2 separate regions of the Homo sapiens genome follow, and region 2 is linked to region 1. Evidence: fine-mapped expression QTL. Tissue or cell type: testis. Region 1 holds a variant in brackets; the other region holds the start of a gene. All regions are shown on one strand. Distances are between the middles of the regions.

Evidence for each region. PIP is the estimated chance that this variant, and not a neighbour inherited with it, causes the effect.
Region 2: FLRT3 starts here. The variant in region 1 is fine-mapped to the expression of FLRT3 in testis (GTEx, PIP above 0.99).

What each region holds. Positions count from the first base shown.
Region 1 is chr20:14,917,210-14,925,477 of GRCh38, reverse strand. All of the region lies in intron 5 of MACROD2 (mono-ADP ribosylhydrolase 2), which reads right to left. All of the region lies in intron 1 of MACROD2-AS1 (MACROD2 antisense RNA 1), which reads left to right. Among named protein-coding and RNA genes, the nearest start is that of MACROD2-AS1, 8.2 kb to the left of the region's middle. RefSeq lists an enhancer at 5,188-6,037. The variant T/G (reference allele first, on the strand shown) is at 3,731.
Region 2 is chr20:14,333,482-14,341,481 of GRCh38, reverse strand. It overlaps FLRT3 (fibronectin leucine rich transmembrane protein 3), which reads left to right and starts at 3,870. Exons shown (of 3, transcript NM_198391.3): 1 at 3,870-4,078. All of the region lies in intron 3 of MACROD2 (mono-ADP ribosylhydrolase 2), which reads right to left.

The DNA.
Region 1 (8,268 bases):
AAAATCTGGTAATTTGATGATTAAGTCATGCCTTCAGAAAATTCTCTGGACTTCTCATTACAAAATAGCACCCTGGTGATTGGGTGCAGTGGATAAGTATTATGTATAACCACTATCTGAGGGCAGAGTTTTCTGAAACTAAGATCAGTCTGGGACAGTAAGGTGTTTCTTTTTCCTGGATTTGTTATTACAATAGCACCACAATATTATTTATATTATGGAAGGCTAAAAAGTATAAAGAAAGCATTTGAAAATGAGCATAATCTTAACCAGAGTTGTTAACTCCCATTTATCTTTGAGATGAGATTGAGAGAAAAGGGTAAAAAAACAAAACAAAACAAAAAACACAGGAGATCGTCCCCTGGTGAAAATGATTCTCTCTGAAAATGGCCATAAAAGACAAGCATTACGTAGTTTCAACCACCTGCCTGATGAGGAGAAGTGAATAAGAAAAAAAAAAATTGTGCCAATACCTTATACACAGAAAAGGAGATATTTAACCCAATCTTTAAATATCAGAACCTAAGGAGGCAAGGCAATCGGGAATAAAAACATACTGAGGGTTATTTATATTACAAATCTTATTAGATTTGTACCTTCCCTTTCAGCCCTTTCCATGTTTTTAATATGTTTTAATGATAGTAACTGTGACAAGAAATTGGGTGATAGAAAATAGAGCAGCATTTTCACTTTCATCTGTGTCTCTTCAGAGACTGCTCTCAGATTTCACAGTCCAGATCCTAGTGTTTTTTAAAGTAGGATAAAGAGACAACACCAACAGGATATTTGCTTGAGTCTCCCTGTTTCCCACTTGGACAGTGTCTTGGTGCAGACTAAAGAGCTACATATATAAGGGTGATTGTTTACTCTGCTTATCTATACAAAAGATCTTAGATAAATAAATGCTCTCATCTACCCTTTCCTAGTTCAAAATCGCATCATCTTATTCCTTTGATATTGTCTAGACTTCCTATATCTGTGGTATTTAACTCTACTTTCTTTCTTTTTTTTTATTTTTTATTTTTTATTTTTATTTTTTGAGGCAGAGTATTGCTCTGTCACCCAGGCTAGAGTGCAGTGGCATGATTTCGGCTCACAGCAACCTCCACCTTCCAGGTTCAAGCAATTCTTATGCCTCATCCTTCCCAGTAGCTGGGATTACAGACGTGTACCACCACGCCAGGCTAATTTCTGTATTTTTAGTAGAGACAATGTTTGGCCAGGCTTGGCCTCAAGTGATGCACCCGCCTCAGCCTCCCAAAGTGCTGGAATTACAGGCACAAGCCACCACACCCAGCCAACTCTATTTCCATATGGTATTATTTTTCTGTTTTTTAATATGCTTAACTTTTTTATGAAAAAGCAAGATTTTTGTTATAAGCTAACTTTCCAAAAACTAAAAATAGCCTTGGTCTAATTTAAAACACTTTTATAACAGCTGAAAATAGATACAATCTATAAGATAATTTGCTTATCGTGGTCTATATATGACCTCAAAGACCCAAAAAGGTTTGCTCGTAAACGGAAAATTAACTTTTTAATGACCACCAGTCATCATCTTTTTTCAGTCTGAGCACTGGTGAAAAAGTTGCAGAGAAATATAAGATGAATCATTTTCTACCTTTATGGAGGTTCTTCTCTTTCCCAACCCTCCACCCCCTCCCCGCCCCGCCGCCCCCCCCTCCCCCAACGCACCGCCAGCCTAGGAAACCCTGAGGCACAAGGCCTATAATTAAGAGTGGCCCTGGAGGCCCGTGCCGTCACCTATCTTAGATATTTCAACAAGGTAGACCACTGGAGTAAGTATGCAAGGAAAAGAAAAAGTACATTGCTTGAACTCACACCATGATATTTTGAAGGTAGCACTAACAAGATTTTCTCTAAGAGACTTTATAGAGAAAGTAAGAGAAACAGGGTAGTCAAGGAGATCACCGAAAATTTTGGCTTGAACTGCGGAAGAATAGAGTTGCTGTGACCTAAGAGGCAGGAAACTACAGAAGGTGTGCATGTATTTTTTGAAAGTAAGTGTTGTGATAAATTAGAAAGTCAGTTTTGGAGATGACACATTTTAGATGTTTACTAGAAATCCAAGTGGAGATACTGAGTAGGCAGCAGAATGTACAAGTTGGAAATTCAGCAGACAAGTCTGGGCTGGAGATACAAATTTGTAATTGATCAGTATACAAAGCCCGGAATCTAGCTGAGATAAGCAAGGATGATTGTTGATAGGTAAGGAGTTCAAGGACTGAACTTTAGGGCTCTTCAGTAATGAGTGGGGAGTGACACAACTGGGAACCAGCAAAAGAGATTGGGAAGAAACAGCCAGCGAGGTTGGAGGAATTCAAGTGAAGAAATTGTTTCATGTGGGAGGAGCGATCAACTGTGTCTGGAGAGAATTGACCGCTGGCAATTGAGAATGATGCACCCTGCTCTAACAATGCTGAAGAAAAGCTTTTAATCTCCAGCTCCTAACTCTGACTCAAAAGCAACAGCCTTTGTAGAAATATCCTGCTTATATTTGTAACACTTAGGAAGTAAGTTATTTTACTTTGATTGTATTGAAATTCTATTGATAATTCACATTTTAAAATAATGTTCCTGAACCATATGCTCAAAATGCCCCTAGGCTTTTAAAATCCCTACCAAATGAGGAAATTACTCAATAAAAGGAAATTATCTCACTGACTGTGTTATTAGATATGTAGTTCAGTGATTTTCTGGAAAGACAGATTGCATGGCCCAGATGGATAATTTTCTTAGTCTGGTACCATCCACATTGATAAAAATCAGTTCCAGTCACTGTATATCAACATTCGCCTTTCCTTGTGGATACCAGTGCCTTGTCAAGGGCTTCGGTAAAGCTGTAGATTCAATGGACATACTGCACCTTTAAAAGGTTAAGATCCAAAAAAGTTAATGAATCAAATTTCTGTCCAGCAGTATATTTTAGCAGCATCCAGAATCAGATAAGGGCAGACACCACTGTTTTTTAGATGTAACAATAAAATAATTTGGAATATAAAAGCAAACTTTCTGAGTTCTAGAATATTCTTTGCCTTGAATATTAGAAGTCCTACTTAGAAATGCTTGTCTAAATTAGGGGTGGTTAAGAAGCCATGTAACCGTTGCATTCTAATCACCTTATGAATACCTAGGTAGCTAAAAACAGATACATACAAAAAAAAGCAGGAAAAAACTATACATCTAAAGACAGAAGATCTTGGGGAAAAGTTGAAAAGCAAATAGACCTAGACTATGTATAAAGCACCTTTCTTTGACAAAACACAAAAACAGTTAAAATGCAGGTATCTTCAATATTATAAACTGAGAAACCAGAAATAGAAAAGATTAGGAAAGATGGGAGATTTGTTTAATGTCACCGGGTCATCATAGAAATTGCTAGAATTTAGAACCCAGTTCTTCCCAACTCCAAGTTGAGCATTTCCAACAAGGCTATCCTGCAATCAGAAAATAATTAGAAGAACTACTCCTTTAGATGCTAAAAGAGACTTGGTTAGAGAATCTGATGCAATTTGGTCTTCTTAAATGATACATTTGCAATATCAGACACCTTTACAAACTCTGCACACAATGATTGTACATTCACAGGAAATCCAATTTGTAGTGCACATTACATGCTAATATGGAAATGTTTGAGTAAATAATTTCTTCATTGGACTATTTTATGAGTCACTCTGCTAGACCTATTGGCATTCTGTCAGCTCCATTC[T/G]GGTTACAATATACCAAACAATTATCCCTGACACTAAATATATCTTAGCCTTTAATGGCAAAGCCCCAGCCTGCAAAATATTCTGGATATGCTATTTATGCTGCCATTTGCAAATAGCATATATCCTAACAGCTGGGCCAGCTGGGCAGACATCACAGCATCTGGAGCAGAAATTAGCCTTTAGGTATGCAATGACTAACAAAGACGCCAAGGCAAAGAAGGATAAGTGTTAACAGTTTCATGCTTTTATATACATGACAATTATGCTTAGCAAAATGGCTCAAATGTATCCAAAACTCTCTATTCTTGAGAATTTTCAAAACCAATCTTAAATTTTTCTGGATCAATAAGAATTAGTTTAAATTGTGCTTGTCTCAGGCAAAGACGGCTATAAATCAATCTCCTCCTAAATGTACATGAGCAGTTTAAATTACATCACATGCCATGGCCAACAAGTGTTGGATGCCAAATCTAAATAGAGTAGATGTAATTTTCACTAGATTGGAATATGTAATACAGAAATGGATTTTTAAAATGTCATGGGAAATAACTGCATTGCCCATAATGTCGATATGCTCCCCAAACACCCAATACACAGATCCAATAGACTGGTAATACACATCACAGCACAGAGTTGATTCACCAGTGTTTTTTAATTCTATACATTATGTAAAAATGGTTGTGGTTTAAAGGGATGACTGGCTATATTCTTCAAAAATTGGATTCCATATTTCATGTTTATTGTCACCAAAGTTGTGGAACATATCTAGGTTTTTTTGCCCTTAATTCCTTAAACATTTTGAAGAGTTAAGGATTGTTTGAAGTTAAATTATTATTTTTAAACCTAAAGACCAAGTGACTTTCCTAATGTGAATGTGTGGAGGAACCTCAATTAAATATTCTACCATAAATGAACAAAGTGATTTCCCCACTTTCCAGTTACACATAACCCTTCTATTTTTATTAATCTCATTCATTACACTGCAGCTTTATTCCAGAGAAAATTCAAGGATTAGAAGAAATGGTAGCAATATTAAATAAACTTAATATCACCTTTATTGCACATAGCTATGATAACATGCTTAAGGTCTATACTAGAAGGTAACTCTTCACCTGTACACTTTATATAAATCATGAATACCTCAGATATATCTATAAATACCTTGAAAAAGTTCTGTCTTCAATAATTTATTCTAAAAAGAAGAAAAAATTAAATGAGAGCGCAAAGAAATCACACTTCAAACCTGAGAACATTTTTAACGAAATTAAAATAAACAATACATAATAGATTTCCAACGTATCTGGTTAAAGGGTATTCAGAAAGGAACACCCTCTGGCCTATTTACATTTAGGAAACATTAGATAAGATCAGATTTACCAGGGAACATCTCTGTTTTAGATTTGGAATGCCTCTGTAACAATTTTACCCAACTATTACCTTGTTGAGCCCTGGTTATTCACACAAGGAAAGTTAAAGACAGGGCATGTATTTTCAAGCCTGGGGCAAAAGAAAGTTGAGCACATCACAAAGAAGGAAAACTATCTGGTTTTCTAAGAGAGCTGCCAACTCCTTCTCTATCCCAGTACCAGTAGTTACTGAGAGGAACCAGGCGCGGGTTAACTCAAAAGGGAATTAATTCATATACTTTATCTCAGCAAGGGGAAGAGGTTTCTGCAGGGCTGCCGGCTGTTTGAGATGCAGAGAAATCACGATGCAATGTCAGCCTGCAGCGATCCCAGGTGTGCTCACCTGCTGGGGGCAGGGTGGGAGGAGCTAGATTCAGCAGGCTCTGGAAGTCTGGAAGCTGACTAGAATGATTGCTCATAGGAGTTGCTTTGATTTCCTCTAGGAAAGGGAGGTAAAGGAGGGGCTAATGGGGCCACGGCAGGTGGAGCCTTGAAATGGTTTCTATTTATTTCTCCTGACTCTTGTTATTTTGCTTCATCATTCATTGACGTTTCTTCCTCCCTATCTGGTTTAATTTAGGGCCGGTGTTTGTTTGTTTTTGTTGTTCAACTTGATTTCCTGGAAGACTGACAAAGAGTCTAAAGAATGTGAGTGCCTGCTTTGAATTAAGCCCACTGAGTCAAATTACTGATTGCAAAGGCAGCAGTTAGGAACAAGCAGATTTTGATTCAAGTTAGAAAGAGGCACTCATGGTTCCAAAGCAGTACAAGGAACAAAGAGAACACGGCCCTGTTCCTGGTTGCTTGCAAGAAGGCAGGAATAAATTGCTTGCTTGTTTAACTGCTTTTCAAAGTAGCAGATAGATTGTTTTTGGTAGTTAAATGTGGTTATGAAAGGTTGAACAATTAGAGTCATTTTCATAATCAGCAATTGCTGTTGCTGAAATTAGAGAGAAAAGTAAGTGATAAATAAAGGGAAAACATGTCTGGCAGGAAGCATTATTCAATCATAAGCTATCCCAAATGGTTAAAAATGTAGCTTATATTACACTCCTGTGAATTTACAACAACATGGAGGAGAGAACTAGGCCACTCAATTTCACAGTTCCAGGAGAAAACGAAGCTCTTTCTGGAACTTTTACTTTCCCAGCAATGTGTTTGTGATGCATTCCAGATGGACAAGCCTTGAAAAGTGACGGTATCCATCTATTTGTGAGAATGAACACAGAGAGAGTGAGAGTTTTCACATCCTTGTCTTCCTCAAATATAAACACCGCAAAACACAAATGAATCCTCTTAATCCAATTTGGGAGGACTCCTTAGGACAAAAGGCTTTATCAGTTATCATCAAAGCATTCAGTTTAATTCTTCTTCCCTTGAGTCTCAGGGGGTTGGGGGAGAGAGTAGTTGATGAAATAAAAGTAAAATAGAGCTAAAGACAGTTCTTTAAATGAAGACATACATACAGCTGATTGTTTAATGTATGGGTAACACAAGACTGAAACACATCAGTGATATGTTGTGAGTTCAATTAAAATATAAAAAGATTTTGACAAATTGGAAACATGATCTAAATCTAATAGTATGACCTTCAGTGAAAATAAATGTTAGGACTTGAATTTGGTTTCAGAAATGCGTAAGTGTGGGATAGAGGAGACATTGTTTAGCAGGAGCTGGTAATGAAATCTCATTTGCTAATAAACTCCAGAAAAAAAAAAAAAAACAAAAAAAACACAGTGTCACAAAAAGGGCTAATGTGATATGATTGCAGATGACTTTAGAGGAATACATTTACTAAATAAAGCAGTAACAATTCTACCCTGTGCCAGCTGACCTACATGCAAACCATGGCATATGCCTACTCTCCTATCCAATGTGAGAGGAATCCTTCTAGCCAAGGCCAATCCCTCCTCCGGTTGCCTGGATGGTACCTTACCTTCTTTCTAAGCAACCTCTCTCTAGCAGCTACTTCCTATCTCTTCTGGATCATTAACTTCTGCCTCTTCTCTGGTCCCTTCTTATCAGCATTTGATCACACTCAAGTCTTTCTCATCATGAAAAACCTTTTCTAGTCCAGTTGCTCATGCCTGTAATCCCAGCACTTTGGGAGGCCGAGGCAGGTGGATTGCTTGAACCCAGGAGTTTGAGACCAGCCTGGGCAACATAGCAAAAACCCATCCCTACAAAAATAATACAAAAATTAACTGGGGATGGTGGTGTGTGCCTGTAGTTCCACCTACTCGTGAGGCTGAGATGGGAGGATCACCTGAACCTGGGGTGGTCGAGGCTAAAGTGAGCCAAGATTGCACCATTGCACTCCAGCCTGGGCAACAGAGCGAGAGCCTGTCTCAAAAACAAAAACAAAACAAAATCCTTCCGTATACCGCATTACCCTTGTGACCACAAACCTCTCCTTTTTGCTGCTGAATTCCTACACAGTTACTCTCTTCCCTCCTTTACCTGTCTGTCATCTTCATCCTAGTGAAATTTGACTTTCGCCCCCACTGCTTCCCTGGAATGGCTCTTCATTAAATCACCAACTAAAGGACAACAACCAGCCCTTATCTTTTTTAGTCACTGAGTAGCTTTAGATGCAATTGACCAGTCTTTCTTGAATTTTTTTCTTCTTTTGGGTTTCGTGGATGTCTGTCCTGGTTCTCCTCCATGATGAGCTTCCTATTCTCAATGTTATTGCTGTTTGTTGTCCTGTATTTGTTGTAGTCGGTGTGTTTTGGAGGTTTGTCTTCCTCTGCCCATTCTATGTGTTGGTCTTCCATAGGCTTCCCGGTGAGCTTCCACAACACAGTTCTCTCATAGACAGGTGGAGGGAGTTCCCTGGATGGAAATCAAAGGCCAAGTGCCTGCACTATCATGGAGTCCTCCCTGCATTGCTTCATAGGGGATGCCCACCAAGAAGGCAATAAGGAGGAACCATAGAACTTCTTCCTATGGGACCCACAATGGAACAATCAGCTGCCTTCACACAGCAGTGGTTTCAAAGAGTTAACAATATTGAAGACTTTTAAGAAAATTCCCCATAAGGAAACATTTTGAGCTTAAATACATGGAAGAATAGAGACCCGATGTCACACAAAAGCTAACCTCAGGCCTCCGCTGGGAGGGGTTCTGGA
Region 2 (8,000 bases), 580 kb after region 1:
ATTTTTACTAGAAACGGGGTTTCACCACGTTAACCAGGCTGGTCTCAAACTCCTGACTTCAGGTGATCCTCCCGCCTCGGCCTCCCAAAGTGCTGGGATTACAGGCATGAGCCACTGCGCCCATCCAAACTGTTTTCTTTACACAATTTTGAAGATTTTATTCTCATGAAGAATGCTGAGGGAAAGGAAAATCATGAAGAATGTTTCTTAGGCTTAAAAGAACCTTAATGTCTTCTAAGATTAAATCTCAGAACTTCATAGTTGGAGATAGTTTGGGGATCATCTAGTCCTACTAGTTTCTTTTACACAGGGAGTCAATAAATATGTATATGATGAATGAATAAATGAATGTGAAGACTGAATGAATGAATGTGTGAATGAGGTAGCTTAACTCTAGACAGACCTGAATTGTATTGTTCCATGAAATGACTGTGTGTTTTAGTCAGTTTCAGCTGGTAGTTGGTAACTAAAAGACAGATTTGAGGCTTCTGTGTGTATGTTGTTTTTCATTTTTTTGTCTGGATATACAAGTAAATGGCAGAACCTGGGAAACCCAATTCCAAATCCAATCTACTTTCATGTCCACTAGTGAACATCTCACATTTTCTCATAAAAACAAACAAAGAACACCACAAAGTCCTTTGAGATGACAAGTTTAGATAGTCCTAGAGTTTTAAAACTGGGATATGTTATTGAAGTTCATTTCCAAACCAGTTGCTTTCAATCTGAAATGCACTTTCTCACGTACAATGCTAGATTCACAGGCTAGCCAACAAAACAGAACAAAATGCAAAACAGCAAACATCTTTTCAACCCAAAATATCTACTAGAACCCAACTAAGTGTTAAGTTCTGGGAACATGAGGTCATGAGATGTGTAAGTACAAGAGAAAAAAAAAATCAATGAAATGCTCTTCTATTCCTCTTTTCCACTTCCATTTACTGACTGTAAAATTACTTCAAAGAGAAATTTGAAAAATTCCAAAAATCTGTTATTGGCCCTGTACTACCTCCCTTTGTGTATTCTTCTCCCATTCTTAGTGTCCTTTTTGTTCCAGGTGCTTGGATGTCCCCCATCTTAAATAATGACAGCTATCGTCTTATTGAGCACTTACTATGAGTCAGGCACTGAGCTAACAAACTCAAAGAGATTAAGTAATTTGTCTACAGTCATGTGGCAAAGCCAACATGGAGCCCAGCTGTGCTAATCTCTGAAGCCCATGTTCTTAAACTACCCAGGTCTACTACACTGGTTGTCCTCTACCCTGAGCCAAGTCCTTCCTGATATGAGAATCCACCTCCTCCCTTCCTATTACAGCCAAAAGGGTTTCATGCTAAAGATTGCCAGCATTCCATCCCCTTCAATCAAAACAGTCATCCCCTTATTGTAGCCAAAGTGCCTTAGAAAACAAAAGAGGAGGGCAATCTGAAGTAACTCATGATAACCTCATGTTTCCAGAGATTGTACATACTATTTCAAAGGGGGCACACATTATTATAAATTCACCTTCAACTAGTAGCATTTCAGGTAGCTGATAAGAGCGGGAAGTGAAAAACTATGTATGCAGCAAAAGAGTATATATTTTTGGACAGAATAGGAGGCCACAGATTCTACTAAGAGTTTGCCCCCAAAGTCAGTACCCCAGTATAGAATATATTTTCACAATTTCTTTTCTTTTCCCATATTTTAATCCATAGCTTAAAAGGGGAAAAAAAGCAACAAAAAATAATTGGCATTTAATAAATCCTTGCTGCCTTTATTTGTCAAGTGATGAAACCAAAGCCTAGGGCAACAAATATGAAGTCATATAACAATGGCAGCCCAGAGAAGGGAAACCTCCAAACTGCTAACTCCCAGGCCAGTACAATTTATTTTTGATACCTATAACCCAATTCACCAATTGATTTTTCTTTTCTGTTTAAGGCCTGCCTGAATGAAGACGAAACTGATTAAATATGGCTATAAACCCACAGGAATTTGACCAGGCAAAAATTTTCTTTTTTAAACAGAACCAACTCCTATCTGAAAATGGCTTCTAGAAATAATTATTTAATAAAATAATTTAATCCATGTCTTTGTTTCATAGTAACAGAAAAATATCCACCTCCCTTTCCTCCCAAAATTCAGCTGCTGCATATCAGTTTAATTGTACTACCTAGCAGTTCAAAGAAATTGGCTTTTCAATGGACATTAGAATCTAAAACTCCTAGATTTAATGGGTCTGTCCTCTGAGGCCCACAAAAGTGCAATCATAGAACAATAGGGTCAATACATTTCTTATCAAGGGTTCACCTACTTTGATATCACCCATTCTTGGAAGGGAACTCAGGTCAAACTGTTATCAAACAAATATATAAATAGATAAACTAAATGAAGCTAATGAAGAGACCACAATCAAATAGTCCTGGGAAAGACTATTAGCTGGCCTTCTTCAGAAATAAACATGCAGGGAAAAATTGAGAAAGGACAAAGGAGAAGGTCATGCACCTCTAAGAATAGAGCAAATAAAGATATTAGTTTAAGACAACGGTCCTCCAGGTAAATATAAAAGCTAAGTTCTTACCACCAACATGAACAAGTGAAATACACTTATTTGATGGAAAACTTACGGGCACAAAGCAATTGTTGACCAAATAGCAGAAACCAGTCTACAAAAATCATAATTAAAAATACAAGTATAATTCTGTTAATTAGGCATAGAAATTTATAATCTCCACGTCTTACAATTGTCCAGTGTTTATTCATGTACCTAAATTAAACTAAAATAATTTCAATCCAGGCAAACCACCCTGAAAGATTTTTTTCTTAAGATGTTTATATCTAAACCCATGCTCAGATCAGCAAAAACATTTAGAAAGGAAAATATTCTATTAAATTTTTTAAAAACATTTTATTGGGGGATCGTTAAATATAAATAATCCATTTTAAATAATATAAACACGTAGCAGAAGTACATAAAACATACTTTCATTTTCTAAAACATAGAGAACAGTAACTTCTTCGCCTCCAAAAGAACAGACCATTTAATACCATTTAAAAAAATCTTTTGGCATTCCTATTGCCCTTCCCATAACTAAATGAATCAGTGACACGTGTATATATATACATATATTGGAGATGGAGTTTCGTTCTTGTTGCCCAGGCTGGAGTGCAATGGTGCAATCTTGGCTCACTGCAACCTCTGCCTCCCGGGTTCAAGTGATTCTCCTGCCTCAGCCTCCCAAACAGCTGGGATTACGGGCGCCCAGCTAATTTTTTCTACATGTTGGTCAGGCTGGTCTCGAACTCCTGACCTCAGGTGATCCTCCCACCTCGGCCTCCCAAAGTGCCGGAATTAGAGGCGTGAGCCACCACACCCAGCCCTGATGTATATATTTGAATCTGCTGTTTATTCATATGTTGAATAAACATTCACAGTTGGGATTACTGGCATACATCTTCCACAATTATAACATTATTTTAGCTAGTGAATAATAAAACTAATTTGATTTTGGTTAACTTCTTTTCAATACAGATGGTTTAAAAATAAGACAAAGCCTGTCTTTTTCTATTGTGATCTTAAAAATATCTTTCTAACATGCTTTTTAAAAAAAATACATAAGTATGCTACCACTGCCTTGTAGTAAACTTTAGAAAATGTTGAGATTCCAAAGGGCTGCCTACAAACCAAATGGCATCCTAGCTTTGGCAGGCTGATGCTTCATTTTGGCTGCTCTCGCCCCCTCTAGCGTTTGCAAAGCTCATCTGTCTGATTATCCAGTTACCTCACTGAACAAGATCTTGGCTAAGTCCTGCCCATCTATGACATCACCCCCTTCTTCAGCCACTGCGAGGTGAAGCTTTAAACTTCAGACTTGGAGGTGGGCTGTGTGCAGTAAACTGGAATGCTCTCCCTCGCTCACTCCTCAGTGTAGGAGTGATCTGAAGCAGGACAAGCTCAGCCTGCAGCTGCCGTGGGCTTTGTGTGGACTGGACGCAGAGCTTGGGAGACGGGGGAGGGCTATTACTCCAATTCACTGTCAATGGAATTACAGCTATAGCGGCAGTGTATATAGGATTGCTTTTTCTCGTCTTCCTGGTAAGTGTTTTCCATGTTTTTTCTTATGATTGTCCCAGAAAGTTTGCTTGGTTTTACTCTCTAGAAAGAAACGACTTGATACTATGAGAAATCCAAATAGGAACGTTTGCTCTGTCACCACAACAAGCAATATATGTGCGTGCAAGCCAGCAATGAAAAATTTCACTATCATGGCTGAATGTAAGAAGTTTCTTAGAACCTTCTTTCATTTATAAAAGATAGTAAGTGGCTATTTTCTGTCTTGAGTAATTGCTATGTGAAAAGAGCCTTATGGAAAACAGCAAGTTGGAAAGTTCAATGTTAAATATTAAAGAATACAAGGAGATTCTTCACAGATAGGAAAGCAACTTGGTGTGTACTGTACGTGTGGGATGATCACCAATTGCTGTTTTTACAACTGTGAAAGAAAATCAATAATCCCTCAGCCCATGAGTACGCAGTACATGAAAAGCATACATCTTGCTCACAGCTAGCCGAGCTACTCCTGGAGACTTATGTGCCTCTGTAAAGGATTAACAGCTACACCTAGATTTTAAAGCTTGCACTGCTATCGTGCCTGAGCTGCTTCAAGCATTTCAGGCTTGCAAATCTCAACTAGTAAATTGAACTCAGAGGAGGGGGAGACACTCTTCCAAACCATATTCCCTCTTCAATAGAACACCAAAATCCATTGCTTAGGCAAGTGAAGTATGTGACTAGCATAGTAAATGGCTAAGTCTACTCAGAAAAACTAACAAAGCTCACCCTGGAAGCTATGCCTGATGTATGCAGTGAGTTTGGGGTAGCAGGAAAGAAAAATAAATGAGTAGAGCCCTTATCAAGTGGGTTTTGCAGAGGATCCATTCTTTGCAACTTATAATAGGAAAATCTTATATTGGAAGAAATGCATTTATACTACAAAGCTTGAAAAAGTAGTTAAATGTATCTTCTCAAAAAATTTTGTTCACTGAATTAGGTCTGAAACAAAATGGTTGCATATAGGTAAAGAGTGCAACAGGCCCATCCATGTCTTCTCAACATCTGGGGGGTTTGTTTTTATTATTTTATTTAGAATTTAAAAGAAAAAAAATTGATTTTTTTTTCAATTTTTAGTCCAAAATCTCTAATGGTTTTAATAATAAGGCTATTTTAAACATTCTTAATAAATCTGTCTATTAATAAATCTGTCTAAAATGCTCATCTATGTTATTTTATTATCCAGAAACAACATAAATAAAGCCACTAGAAAAGTCCTTCAGCTGTAGCAATGCCTTTCATTTATCTCTGACTGCATAAAAATATCCTGACCAGCCTAAACATAAAGAATAAATTTGCTTATATTCAGGGAGAATCACTTATACCTGACCCAAAGTGACAGATGACTAATATTCATCTCTTCCGAAATGAGTAAAGAAAAATTAATCCTTTAAAAGTGCCACAATCAATAATATCAACATTACCAACTACTACAAATATTAATGATAATATGCCAGGTTTTACCATGGGAAAATTAAATCAGAGATATGCCCCTTAGTTTGGACACATATATATACACACAGACAAACGCACATCTATTTATTACCCTGAAATAAAAACAGAGTTACAAAAACGCATAGATTTACTAAGAAAACTAAAATTTGATTTTTTGAAGAGCACAACCAAAACACATCAAGTCCAAGGATCAGCAAAATATTAGTGAATGAATAAACATAATGAATTCATTAATATTGCGGTTCTGTAAAACTGTCTACCAGTTACTAATTGGGTTTTTCATTTCGCTGCACCCCACCCTTTAAAATCAATTATGACTGGGTTCAAAATGCACAATTAAACACTTCCCAAACATAACGTTTGTGAGATATATAATTGGATAGCAAATAAAGTTTTTACAAAAAGAAGAAAAACAGTAAGAAAATCTGTCATAACTAAATGTGGCAGCAAAATAGAAGGTATGTTTCTTTTGCTTTCAAGTGTTAATTAAGGAGCCTACAATTCTATCAAAACTTTTTCAGAGCTAAATGAAGCAGTGTGAAATAAATTTGGTTGAAATCTTGTGGCTGTCAGACTTTGTTAGCAAGCTATTAATTATCTTTACCCCAGTTTCTTCTCTAGACTATATTGCCCAATCAAATAGAAACTCCAATTATGCTCAGCATCTCCTGCCTAGGGACACAAGACCCTAATGAACACTCAGTCTCTCTAGATGAAAAATACAATAATCAGCTTTAAACATGCAAGTGCACTGCAGAGAGATTTTTCTGTGCTTTTCTTGGCCACACACCCTAAGGCTTCCTCCTTTTTCTGGATTATTTTGAACAGTTTTAAGCCCTACAAAAATCAGTGCAGGGAATTGGCCTTGTCTTAATAATATATTAATGTTTCTTCTTTCTTGCTTTTCATTTTTGATATGCCAATGTTCATACCAATATTAAATCTGGTCAATGAAAAAGTATTGGTTTATAGTTGCCATTTCAGTCATTTCTTAACTTCTATGCCTCTTTTTAAGGTGGGTGGGCTATATAACAAAGAATGTGATTGATTAATGGCAAAATCCAGAGCTAACTTAAAAATTCTGAATAGATCCCCTTATATATTCTTTTATTCAAACCCATTTATTTAAAAAAAAAAAGCATTAGAAATAACTGTTTAAATCAAATGAAGACTACCATAAATAAAGTCAACAATGGAAATAAGATTCAGTAATTTTTCAAAGGCCATAATTTCTCCCCTCCGTCTTTCCTCCTTCCCCCTTCCCTCCCACCCCCCACCTTTTGCCCCAGAGGCCTTCACTGTTCTTCTCAACGGGAGGCTTTGTTGTAATTAAACCAGAGAAAAACTGGCCAGCAGCAGCCAACATCTGACTTGCGGCTTCAGAAAGCAGTGTTCTGGTAGAGTGTACCACCCCCCAGTGGGCAAAAACTCTACAGTAAAAATCTCTCAGCAATATTAATCCTCAAAACTGCATTTTCTCTTCAGAGCATAAAAAGGGATGTTTCTCAGCTCCTTCTAACATTCCACCATTTCAAAAATTTACTGAAAGTCAACAAATAAATTTCCAACAAAGAGTTGGTCTTCTGAAACAGCATTCTTCCTCTTAAGAAAATAGGTATACACATTTCAAAAAGTATTTTCCAGTTTCAAAATACAGATCGACATCACTCAATTTGGTTAAACATCACACTAAAAGACAGTTTTCAAAGCTATGTTTATGTTGTGTAAGAAAGAACTTTGAGTTATCTATTTACGAAAACCCCAGAGAAAACAGATTTTAAGTAGAAAGCAATAGAATATAATTTAAGCAAAAGCTAAAATTTCATTTGTTTTGCATATGCATAATCTCTTTCCTACCCTAAAATCAAGTGTCAGGGATGTATAAAAAGCTTTCTGCAGGTATTATTCTGTTTAAATCAAAGGAGGGAGAAATTGCTCTCACTCGATGAGACAATGACAGCTTTTGTTCTTTATTCTTTCACTTTACATGTGCACAAGTTACCGAGGCAACTTTGAAGAGAAAACCCACAGACCACATTTGGTTAAAAACCATTTTTAAAGTGTGCCACTGGACTGTGGATTGATCAGTTTATGTGTTGTTGATTTTCTTCCTCTTCATCTGGTTTAAGTAATACCCTGCTTGGACATGAAAAACAATGTATTTTATGATTTCAGGTGGTCTCACCGACCAGTATAGTGCTTGCCACACAGTAGACTAAAATAAATGTATTTGCTGAACTACTGTATGGAAACTTAAATATTAGAAATTTAAAGCACATCAACCAAGTTGTACCCACACTGTTAAAAAGGAATTTGAAGTCTGCAATGGTAAAACGTGGTTTAACAAAAGTAGGCAAACTTTTAATTGCATTTGCTCAAAAGCACAAATTTAAAGCATGCCCCCACCCCAAACTCTGCACCACTTACCTTCACCACTCTCTAAATTAATATC